Linked DNA regions of Homo sapiens: region 2 is linked to region 1. Evidence: fine-mapped expression QTL. Tissue or cell type: pancreas. Region 1 holds a variant in brackets; the other region holds the start of a gene. All regions are shown on one strand. Distances are from middle to middle. Region 1 overlaps SLC25A21 (solute carrier family 25 member 21). Region 2 holds the start of MIPOL1 (mirror-image polydactyly 1).

The links.
Region 2: it holds the start of MIPOL1, and the variant in region 1 is fine-mapped to the expression of MIPOL1 in pancreas (GTEx, PIP above 0.99).

What each region holds. Positions count from the first base shown.
Region 1 is chr14:37,162,721-37,168,108 of GRCh38, reverse strand. The region is part of intron 1 of SLC25A21 (solute carrier family 25 member 21); the gene reads left to right. Among named protein-coding and RNA genes, the nearest start is that of SLC25A21-AS1, 6.6 kb to the left of the region's middle. RefSeq lists an enhancer at 1-414. The variant A/G (reference allele first, on the strand shown) is at 2,746.
Region 2 is chr14:37,194,896-37,200,283 of GRCh38, reverse strand. It overlaps MIPOL1 (mirror-image polydactyly 1), which reads right to left and starts at 2,347. Exons shown (of 13, transcript NM_001388067.1): 1 at 2,180-2,347.

The DNA.
Region 1 (5,388 bases):
TCTGGAAGTTTGTTGAAAATGTGGGATCCCAGGCCTCACCTACTGTAACTGCCCCAGCAGGTTCACCTTGCCTGCTGCCTAGACCGAGCGGATTTATCAAGACAAGAGAATTGCAATAGAGAAAGAGTAATTCACTCAGAGCCAGCTGTGTGGGAGACTGGAGTTTTATTGTTACTCAAATCAGTCTCCCCAAGCATTAGGGGGTGGGGGGAGCGGTGCAGCTAGAGAGTCAGGAGTGCTGATTGGTCAGGTCGGAGATGAAATCATAGGGAGTCGAAGCTGTCTTATGCTGAGTCAGTTCCTGGGTGGGGGCCACAAGATCACAAGAACCAGTTAGATCTAGGTGATGCCAGCTGATCCATCAAACGCAGGGTCTGCAAAATATCTCAAGCCCTGATCTTAGGCTTCACAATAGTGATGTTATCCCCAGGAGCGACTTGGGAAGGGTCAGAATCTTGTAACCTCCAGCTGCATGACTCCTAAACCATAATTTCTAATCTTTTGGCTAATTTGTTAGTCCCACAAAGGCAGTCTAGTCTCCAGGCAAGAAGGGGTTCTGTCTTGGGAAAGGGCTGTTACCATCTTTGTTTTAAACTGTAAACTATAAATGAAGTTCCTCCCAAAGTTAGTTTGGCCTATACCCAGGAATGAACAAGGACAGCTTGGAGGTTAGAAGCAAGATGGAGTTGCTTAGGTCAGATTTATTTCACTGTCTCAGTTACAATTTTGCAATGGCAGTTTCACTACCATATCGGAATCTGCGTTTTTGGAAGGGCCCCAAGTCATTGATTTGCACTTTAAAGTTTAGAAGCACTGTGTAGAAGACCTTTGAGAAAAAAAGACTCTATAGAGGGGGAAGGTCAAAGCCAAATTGCGCAAGTGAAATCTTTCTTGGTTTTCACTGCTGACCAGACAGAAGAATGAATTTCATACTCCCTGTTATATGCCCTCAATTTAGCTTTCAGTCTTATTTTTCAACCCTCTCCTACACATTTTGTTCAGTTTCTGCTGAACAGGTCTGCCGGCAATTCTTGACTGTTACCAGTACTTTACACCTTTATTCCTGATCCCCTAGAATGTCTTACCCCTTACTTTTTTTCTTTTTTGAAGCTAATATTTTTATTTGTATGGAGATAAGGGAACAATCTGATTCATCAGGTTTTCTTAACTGAAAGACTAGAGGCTTTCGATCCCTGTTAGAATATATAGCAGGATTAGAAGGTAACTGGTGAGATATTGTGCCAAATAAAATACAAATATTTCCTCTCACTAATTGTTTGCCTAATGGCTTCAAAACACCTACAAAGAACTTTCCTAGCTTCATCAAGAAGATATATCTCTACCTATTGAAATTCCATCCATTTTCCAAGGCCCAGATTGAAAATGATTTTCTGCATAAGTGTTTCCAAGATGGACTCTACAGTCCACCCAGCTTTAACATTTTCATTAGCATATGAATGATGCAAATAATAAAATAAGCTAATATTTATTGAGTAAATACTAAATGCCGGATCCAGTTCTAAGCTTTACATGTGTTAACACTTTTAATCCTTTCCACAACTTCACAAGGCAAGCACTATAATAATCCCCACTTACAGACGAAGAAACTGATGCGCAGGGGAATAATGAACATGCCATAGTTGCACATACATGCAACCATTTCTATAGGAGTTGGAAAGACGAAGTCAAGTCTACTCTTATAATCGCTGTAGCTGTAATTAGTTTATATTCCTTAAAATAACTGTTTTACCTACAAATACAATCCATACAGACTTTCCATTAAGTAGTACCTTGCTCACTCCAAATCATTTCATCTATCTAGGCAAACATTATCCTTTAGCCAAGAGAAAATTTAGTTATTTTACTTCTCCATCCATTCAGGGCCTCTACATGTAGTTGGACACATTGTGGACTGAAAAAGGGATCTGGACATGAGAGCAAGTAGGAATTGAAATCTAGCACATGCTCTGCTCCGTGATTTGTGCATCCTAGAACAGACGTGTTCACTTGGGGGAAGGGACACCTTTTTCTGTTTCTCACAAAGACACCAAATGGATTGACATAAGGTCTGACAGAATTCCCCTAAACATGTTAGGGATCCCAAGATCTCTGGTCTCAGCAGCCCCTGCATATGACATCATTACTCTGTCTGCATATCAACAGGGCTCTAGGAGGCTCCCCTGTCATGTACTTGATCAACTCTAACTTGGAGCTAGGAGCATGGGTCCATCTCAGACTTTCCCATTCTTCCTAATGATCAGTTTGGACCCTTCCCTGTGTTCCCAAAGACCACGGGGTAGTTCTTATTTCCCATGTCATATAAGATCAGGCCCACTCAGATGGTCATTCTCCCCAGACTCTCACAGGGATTTTGTACCCAACCTCAGAACCTCCCAGGGTCTGTGACAATGTTATCTTAGCCCCCTGAGTGGTCCTGCTCTTACTAGGACCTGTCAGGCTTCCTCCTGAGGTCACTCCTAAGCCTTGTCCACACTGAATTTTCTTCCATAGTGGCAACTCCAGGACCCTCCTCCTGCCTCCCAGAATCTTTTACTCATATTCCCCAAAGTCTGCCAGTCCCACTCTGAATGCCTTCTACAGCATTATCACCTTCTATATATCATGCATGTGAGATCACCATCCTGGCAAGACTGACTTATTTTCCAAAATTTCCAGGTTGCTGTTTCATCCTTTCCAGCCTTACCTTAGTCCCTGGTATCTTTTTTTTTTTTGAGACGGAGTCTC[A/G]CTTTGTCACTCAGGCTGGAGTACAGTGGCGCAATCTTGGCTCACTGCAACCTCAGCCTTCTAGGTTCAAGCGATTCTTTTGCCTCAGCCTTCTGAGTAGCTGGGATTATAGGCACCCACCACCATGCCTGGCTAATTTTTGTATTTTTAGTAGAGATGAGGTTTCGCCATGTTGGCCAGGTTGGTCTCAAACTCCTGACCTCAAGTGATCCGCCCGCCACAGCCTCCCAAAGTGCTGGGATTACAGGCGTGAGCCACTGCACCCAGCCAGTCCCTGGTGCTTATAAGCACATCTCCATCAATTACTCTGTTTTTACTTTGTGCATCTCCCTGCAGTTCATTGCTTTCATTTAAATTCATTGTTTTAGTTCAAAGTTTTCTGGAAACAAGTTTTCCAATCTTGCACTAAACACAGTTCAAGTACTTTGTGTAGTGTTATCTCATTAATCACCTTCAAAGAGTCAAATAAGAGTGAAATGAAAGACTTTTTTGAGGGAGGGAAATCTGGAATTAATGAATAGGCTTTTGGGAGATTAATTATCTGAGAGTATATGCAAATGCTGTGATATTTTAATAGGGAGAGAGTCCAAGGCTTTTAACCTGAAAAGGCTAATAAAAAGATATAGGATGTTTTCAAATTTCTTACATATCTTCATTTTCACAAGATTACTCCTTTTTCTTACTCTAATAGTTAAAATACAGTTAAAATAGATGCCTTAATAGTATGTATACTAGAAGTCCTTTGGATTTTAATTTGAACTACGTAATAAAAGGGCTGATACACCAGGGGGTAATCAAGGTTAAAATTTTGATCAAGGAAAATTCTTTTGCAAAATGGTGCAAAGGGGATGCACGTGTGATTTGGATAAATGGCACCTTTGGAAATTCAGGATTTGGGAAACTGTAATTGTTTGATAATAAATAGCAGGTTGTACTGAAACAGGTGAGCCTTTATGACACATCAAAGGGTGGCTGGAACCCATTATCTGGGTAATTAGGGAGAAAAAAATAACCCTTATTTCAAGCACATAGGAGGAAGCAACCCTATTGCTCGAATTAATTATAAAATACCTTTAAAGGATGTATTTTAAGTAAAATGTAATCTTGTCTCTCTTTAAGAAAATCTAGTTCTCAAAAATCAGAATTTAAGAACAAACAAAATATGAGTTGCATACCACATTTTAAAGGATTTCTTATTTTACTCTACCTTCCTGAAAGATGTTTTAAAAGTGTAACTACCCTTAATATGTGGCTATATGATTCAACTGACATAAAACTTAAAACAACTTTTATACAATATTTTAAAAACATGTGGTTAAACCAGCCCTTCCTCACCTCCCTTTTGCCCCCAGCCTTGACTACAGCTTCTTAGGGTATTGAGAACCAGGTGTTTCAGAGTATAGCAAGTAGGGGCTCAGAAATGTTTGTTGATCATATTAACAAATAAATATGAAAAGTCTAAGCCATAGAATATTCTTAGGTTCCTACTCTGAAGACAGAAAAATATTCAGGGATTCTAGTCATTAGATAATACTTACAACAATACTGTATAAATGATTTATACATTTTAAAGTGTTATCATTCTACTCTGCTATCAAACATTGAATTTATTCCTTCTCTCTTCCTGTATGTTTATACACTTTAACCCACTTTTATTCATCCTCCCCACTCCTCCCAACTCACCCTTCCCTGGTGGTATCTTTAAAATGGCAATGAATGAAAGGAACCAGGTTAAAGGTGCAGTATTTTTACAGTTGTACTAGATTTTGATCGATTTTTCTTACCAATTTCCTTTTTTTGTTTTCATTCTCATATTGTTATTGTATCTAAATTGGAAGATAGTTATTTTCCAAGTGATTAATATCTTTTATTATGTTTGTGTCAATTATTTTGACACTTTGATGTTATCATGGTTTATACACATTGTAAATATTCTATCAGATATGTATTTTTTCATTATTATCTGTAGTCCTTATATAAATTTGCTGGGGTTACCAGAAAAATGCACCACAAACTGGGCAGCATAAACAACAGAAATTTCTTTTTATTTATTTATTTATTTATTTATTATTATTATACTTTAAGTTTTAGGGTACATGTGCACAATGTGCAGGTTAGTTACATATGTATACATGTGCCATGCTGGTGCGCTGCACCCACTAACTCGTCATCTAGCATTAGGTATATCTCCTAATGCTATCCCTCCCCCATCCCCCCACCCCACAACTGTCCCCAGAGTGTGATGTTCCCCTTCCTGTGTCCATGTGTTCTCATTGTTCAATTCCCACCTATGAGTGAGAATATGCGGTGTTTGGTTTTTTGTTCTTGTGATAGTTTACTGAGAATGATGATTTCCAATTTCATCCATGTCCCTACAAAGGACATGAACTTATCATTTCTTATGGCTGCATAGTATTCCATGGTGTATATGTGCCACATTTTCTTAATCCAGTCTATCATTGTTGGACATTTGGGTTGGTTCCAAGTCTTTGCTATTGTGAATAGTGCTGCAATAAACATACATGTGCATGTGTCTTTATAGCAGCATGATTTATAGTCCTTTGGGTATATACCCAGTAATGGGATGGCTGGGTCAAATGGTATTTCTAGTTCTGGATCCCTGAGGAATCGCCACACTGACTT
Region 2 (5,388 bases), 32 kb before region 1:
CAAAGTAAAGAGGAAAAAAACAGAAAAGAATGTGTAACAGAGACTGTACAGCCTGTACAACCTAAAATACAGGTAGTCCGAGCTTCACACATTACTTGGTTAGCTGAAACTCTACAAAGCGAGGGCTGCCTACACTTATTGTCTGGTCCCTTACAGAAATAGAGGATATCCAAATGCCAGTAAACACATGAATATGTGTTCAATACCATCAGTCATTAGGGAAATTATGGGAAAACCCCAATGTTATGTCACTATATTCCTACTAGAATGGCTAAAATGAAAAAGACAGTGTGAAATGTTGCAAGCATTTGGAGGAACCAGAATTCTCAAGCTGCCACTGAAGTATAAATTGACACAATATGAAAAACTTTTCAGTAGTGTATACCACAAACACACATCTGCCTATCCTGTAACACAGTAATTTTCTAGTAGGCATATACGCAATAAAAATGTACATATGGCCAGGCGCGATGGTTCACACCTGTAATCCCAGCACTCTGGGATGCTGAGGCAGGTGGATCAGCTGAGGTCAGGAGTTTGAGACCAGCCTGACCAACAAGGTGAAACCCCGTCTTTACTAAAAATACAAAACTTAGCCAGGCGTGGTGGTAGGCACCTGTAGTCCCAGCTACTCGGGAGGCTGAGACAGGAGAATTGCTTGATCCCGGGAGGCGGAGGTTGCAGTAAGCCGAGATCGCGCCACTGCACTCCAGCCTTGGCGGCAGAGCGAGACTCCATCTCAAAAAAAAGAAGAAAAAAAAAAGTATACATAATTTCATCAAAATATTTCTAAAAATCTTTATAGCAGCCCTATTGGTAATAGCCAAAAACTAGAAATACTATACATACAGCATGAGAATAACAAACTGCTACATAACTTGAATAAATCTCACAAATAAAATATTGAGCAAAAATCAGAAACTAAGGACTAAATACCATATTACTCCATTTATATAAAGTAAATAATAGGTGAAATTCATTGATAATGTTGGAAGTCCAGATAATGATTACCTTTGGAACCATGAAGTGGGGCTTCCGGGATGCAATAATGCTCTTTCCTGATCTAGATACTGGATACATGGGTATTTACACTTTGTGAAAATTCACCGAGCTGTACACTTACGATTCATGCACTTTTCTGTATGTCTTTATACTTTAAATATTAACGCAATAAAAATATCTCTATAAACTCTACTCCTTTGAAGGAAAATTGTATACATCTCCCATTCATTTTGCTGATTGCCATCATTACCTCCCATCAATGACATGTCTTGATTCCTATTCCTCACATTAAAAATTAAACTGTTTTAATTAATTTTATTGGCATACGATTGCATAGAATGATTATGTAATTGTCATTTTAGATGAACTCCATACCAGATCACAAGGAAAAACTTTGAAACGCCAATAATTTGTGATAGTATATTCAAGTTATCTGGGGAAGAAAAGAACACCTCCTTGAAATGTAGTTTTGTTTGGCCCTTTGTTTTGGCTTATTTCTATCTACTACCACTGTGATTTAACCTGCATAAAATGCTCAAAGGAGCTTTTCCAAACGCGTGTGTTTGTGGAAAGTTGTTCCTTTCTACCATCCTTGTCTAATAATGCGGCTGTCTTGTTCCCTCCATCCATAGAGCTTAAAATGCTTCCCAAACGTTGCACCAGGTCCAGGGACATTGTGAATCAAAAAAGAAAAAAAAAAATTCTAACAGTATCTTTTTACAGCATGGCTTAGCGCGCTTAAAGAAGCCCCTCATTCTTCGCCCACACTTCCACGTGTGAGAAATGAAATATAAAACGACTCTCTCATGGGCACAGAGTCGATCAGAGGTTGAGCGAGGACTGGAACCTTCTGACTAACCGCGACTTAAGGGGAAAAAAACAAAAAAAATACACCCTTGAATAAATGCTCAGCTGCTCAGGTCCAGTATTAGGAAACTGGAGACAATACCAAAACCATACCCAGAAAGAGCTGTCTGCCACCTGAGGACCCCACGACACTGACCTTCGAGAGAGCCCCATCACTCCCGGCCACGCGGGGTCAGCATTCACTAAGTACAGATTCCGCGGGGCCCCTTCTCCTTCTCCAAGGAAAAGTCTGCGGCCGAAAACTCCAGGGCTGATCTGTGCCCACCACTATCATTCTCCGTCGCCCAAACCTCCCTGCCCAACCGTTTACCTGAGATGCGCCTGGCATAGACCGGGGAGTCGACACTGCGCGCTTGCCGAGTTTCTCAGGCCGAGTGCGCAGCCACCGCGTCAGCCAATCGCCACTGGCTCAGAGCCTCCTGGCTCGAGACTCACCCACAGACGATCCGGCGGAGGAGCGGGGCGGCGCGTGGGGCCTACGGGGCGGCGGCGCGCCGCAGGGGAGAGCGCAAGCGGCGAGCACCGGGCATGCGCGTGCCGCGCTGCCGGGCCGCGAGGCGGGGCCTCCAGGAGAAAGAGAGAGCTTGGGAAGAAGGCCCGGGAGGAGTTTGGAGAGAAAGTAGTCGAACTTAGTCTGCTGCGGTGGTTGCCCTAACGGGATGCTTATGGTTGTCGAATCCAAGACGACGAGCGCAGAACGCTCTTTCTCTTCTGAAAGAGCAAAACGTTGTCTGGACAAAACCTAATAGGATTAGAAGAGGGAGAACGCGGAACTAAAAACGGTGTCTTGTGGCCTCATACTTGGCCTCGTCGAGTTTTCCCAAGACCTGTCGAAATTGTGCTTTCCTTCTTTGTGTGTGGTTTGGGATGAGAGGTGGGAGGGACGTGTTTCGAAGCGGCGGTCAAGTGAAAATGGCACCAGATCGGGCTCCGGTTGAGTGAGCAAAAGTACTATCTAGATCCTGGCCAAAGAACGTTTCACACTAAAACCTTGGAGCTGGTGACTTTTTTTTTTTTTTTTTTTTTTGACTGAAGTGCTGGATGAGATTACGATATGTGAATCCTCTAAGAAAAAATGTTAAACCTTACAGAATTTAAAAATGTCCAAAGTTTTCAATTGGCCTACCTCCGTGAACTAAGAATGGTATAATTAACTGCTAGTAATTTAAATTTGGGTTTTTTGTTCCATAGTTCAGAATTGGTTTTATAAATGTCACTTTAACTCCTGTTACTCATGATTCCTTCAGACACCAAATACTTAGTGACCACATACCATGTGCCAGGTACTCTTCTGGGTGCTGAGTAATAAGCAATAATATTTTTTAATACACCCCAGAGAATAGGCATAATATGAGGTGCTGACGGGTTCCTAAATTTGTGGTTAAAGTTAATGAAAGGAACTTATCCTTTAGTAAGTGTACAAAAGAGAGTTTAAAAAACTGAAAAAGGCCGGGCGCGGTGGCTTACGCCTGTAGTCCCAACACTTTGGAAGGCTGAGGCAGTGGGATCGCTTGAGCCCAGGAGTTCGAGACCAGCCTGGACAACATGGCGAGACCTTGACTTTATTAAAAATCAAAAAAATTAGCTGGGCATGATGGTGCATACCCGTAGTCCCAGCTACTAGGGAGGATGAGGTGGGAGAATCGCTTGAGCCCCAGAGGTGGAGACTGAAATAAGCTACGATGGCTGGCGCCACTGCACCCCAGCCTGGGGGACAGAGCATGACGCTGTGAAAACTAACAAAATGGAAAAGTTGGACGTAGATTAACTTGGAACAACAGAGGTTATAATATTCACCAAATTTTCGTTATGTATGCTGTAATGAACAGTGTTCTCAAGAAGTTTGTTACAGATTCAGCTTTGAAATGCTTTTTTCTTTTTTGCTTTACTTCAGTCAGGATTTGAATCATATTTATGAACATAAAGTACCATAAAAATCTATGAGACAAAAACAAAGAGTGTACAGTTTATCAGAGCAAATACTCCAATCAGGAAGTATATAGCTTGTGCAAAGGCTTAGGGCCAAATCAAATTATGTGTAAAACAAAGGAAAAAGTTGATTTTCCTGGCTAGGAAATAATAAATAAAACAGGATAGTGACTACCACAATGAGAACATTCAAACCATGTAATGAATTAGTAGAATAAATTTAGAGAAAAATTATAATATTTTTCATTGAGTAAAGTTCATTTCCTCCTTTTTTTAAAGCCCATTATCTGGGTGCTTACAGTCTCTGGCATAAAGAGAAACCTCATATTTTCTTTCCTTTTAGTAAGCTGATTTTCTCTCTCTCTCTCTCTGTTTTATGCAGTGAGTTCAAACATTAGGACTAATTCTCCCTATTCTTTTTCCTTTTTCCCTAACATACCTGAAGTAACTCATTAATGTTCTTTCCCTAAACTTTTGATACCACAACAGGTAAGTTTTCCCCTACTCCCCTCCACCACCACCATAACCAACATATCCATTTCTTCATTTTCTATTGTTCTAACAGTTGCCTGTCTATAAGAAATGAAAGAGATAAATTAGAGCTTTTTTCTTTTCTCAAAATGATTATCAAAGATATTGTCTATGTCCTCATACCTCATACAAGCTGGACTTTTACAGAAATATGGATGAAGATGAGAAGAAGAAAATGAACCACTCTTTCGTTACAGGGAGAAAAAGAATGTCATATTATTAATATTATCAAGTCTGTTAATGTCAGATCATTAATATTCTCAAGTCTATAAATATTAGGCTTCTGCAGTGTGTCACACACTGATCAGTTCTGCAAATAAAATAATGAATAACAATTAGGCACACAAGTAGCTGAGAATACCATATGTATTAATCAGGGTTCTCCAGAGAAACAGAACAAACAGGATATGTGTGTATACACAGAGACTACATAGAGAGAGGGACAGTGATTTATTGTAAGGAAATGGCTCATGCAGTTGTGGACTTTTAGTGAGTCCAAAATCTGAGGGAAGAGGCGGGCAAGCCTCAGAAAAGAATTGTAGTTGGACATACATGGAATGTAATCTGTTGTATTCAAAGTCTGGTGATTTAAATGGTAATCTCATCAAAAAAACACCTTCACAGAAGCATCCAGGATAACGTTTCACCAAATATCTGTGCACCATGGCCCAGCCAAGTTGACAAAATTAACCATCACACTGTGTAAACTGAGAAATGGCTTTGGGAGAGGGGAGTTCAGGGGATGAGGAAGACAGAGTCAGGAAAATCTGAAGGAGATAATGCCTCCTGTAGTATGAATAAGACTTAGCAAGGTGAAGAGGTGAGGGTGGAGGTGCAGAGAAAACAGAATTCCTTATAAAGGAATCAATATGGGAGTGAGATACTGTAAGGAGCTATAAGCAATTTAATATCACAGTATAAAATTTAACATGGAAAGTGGTGGGAAATGAAGTTGGAGAGATTATGAAAGGTCTTTTTTAAAAATAGAGTTGGGGACTCACTATGTTGCTGGGGCTGGTATCAAAGTCCTGGCCTCAAGCAGTCCTCCCACTTTGGCCT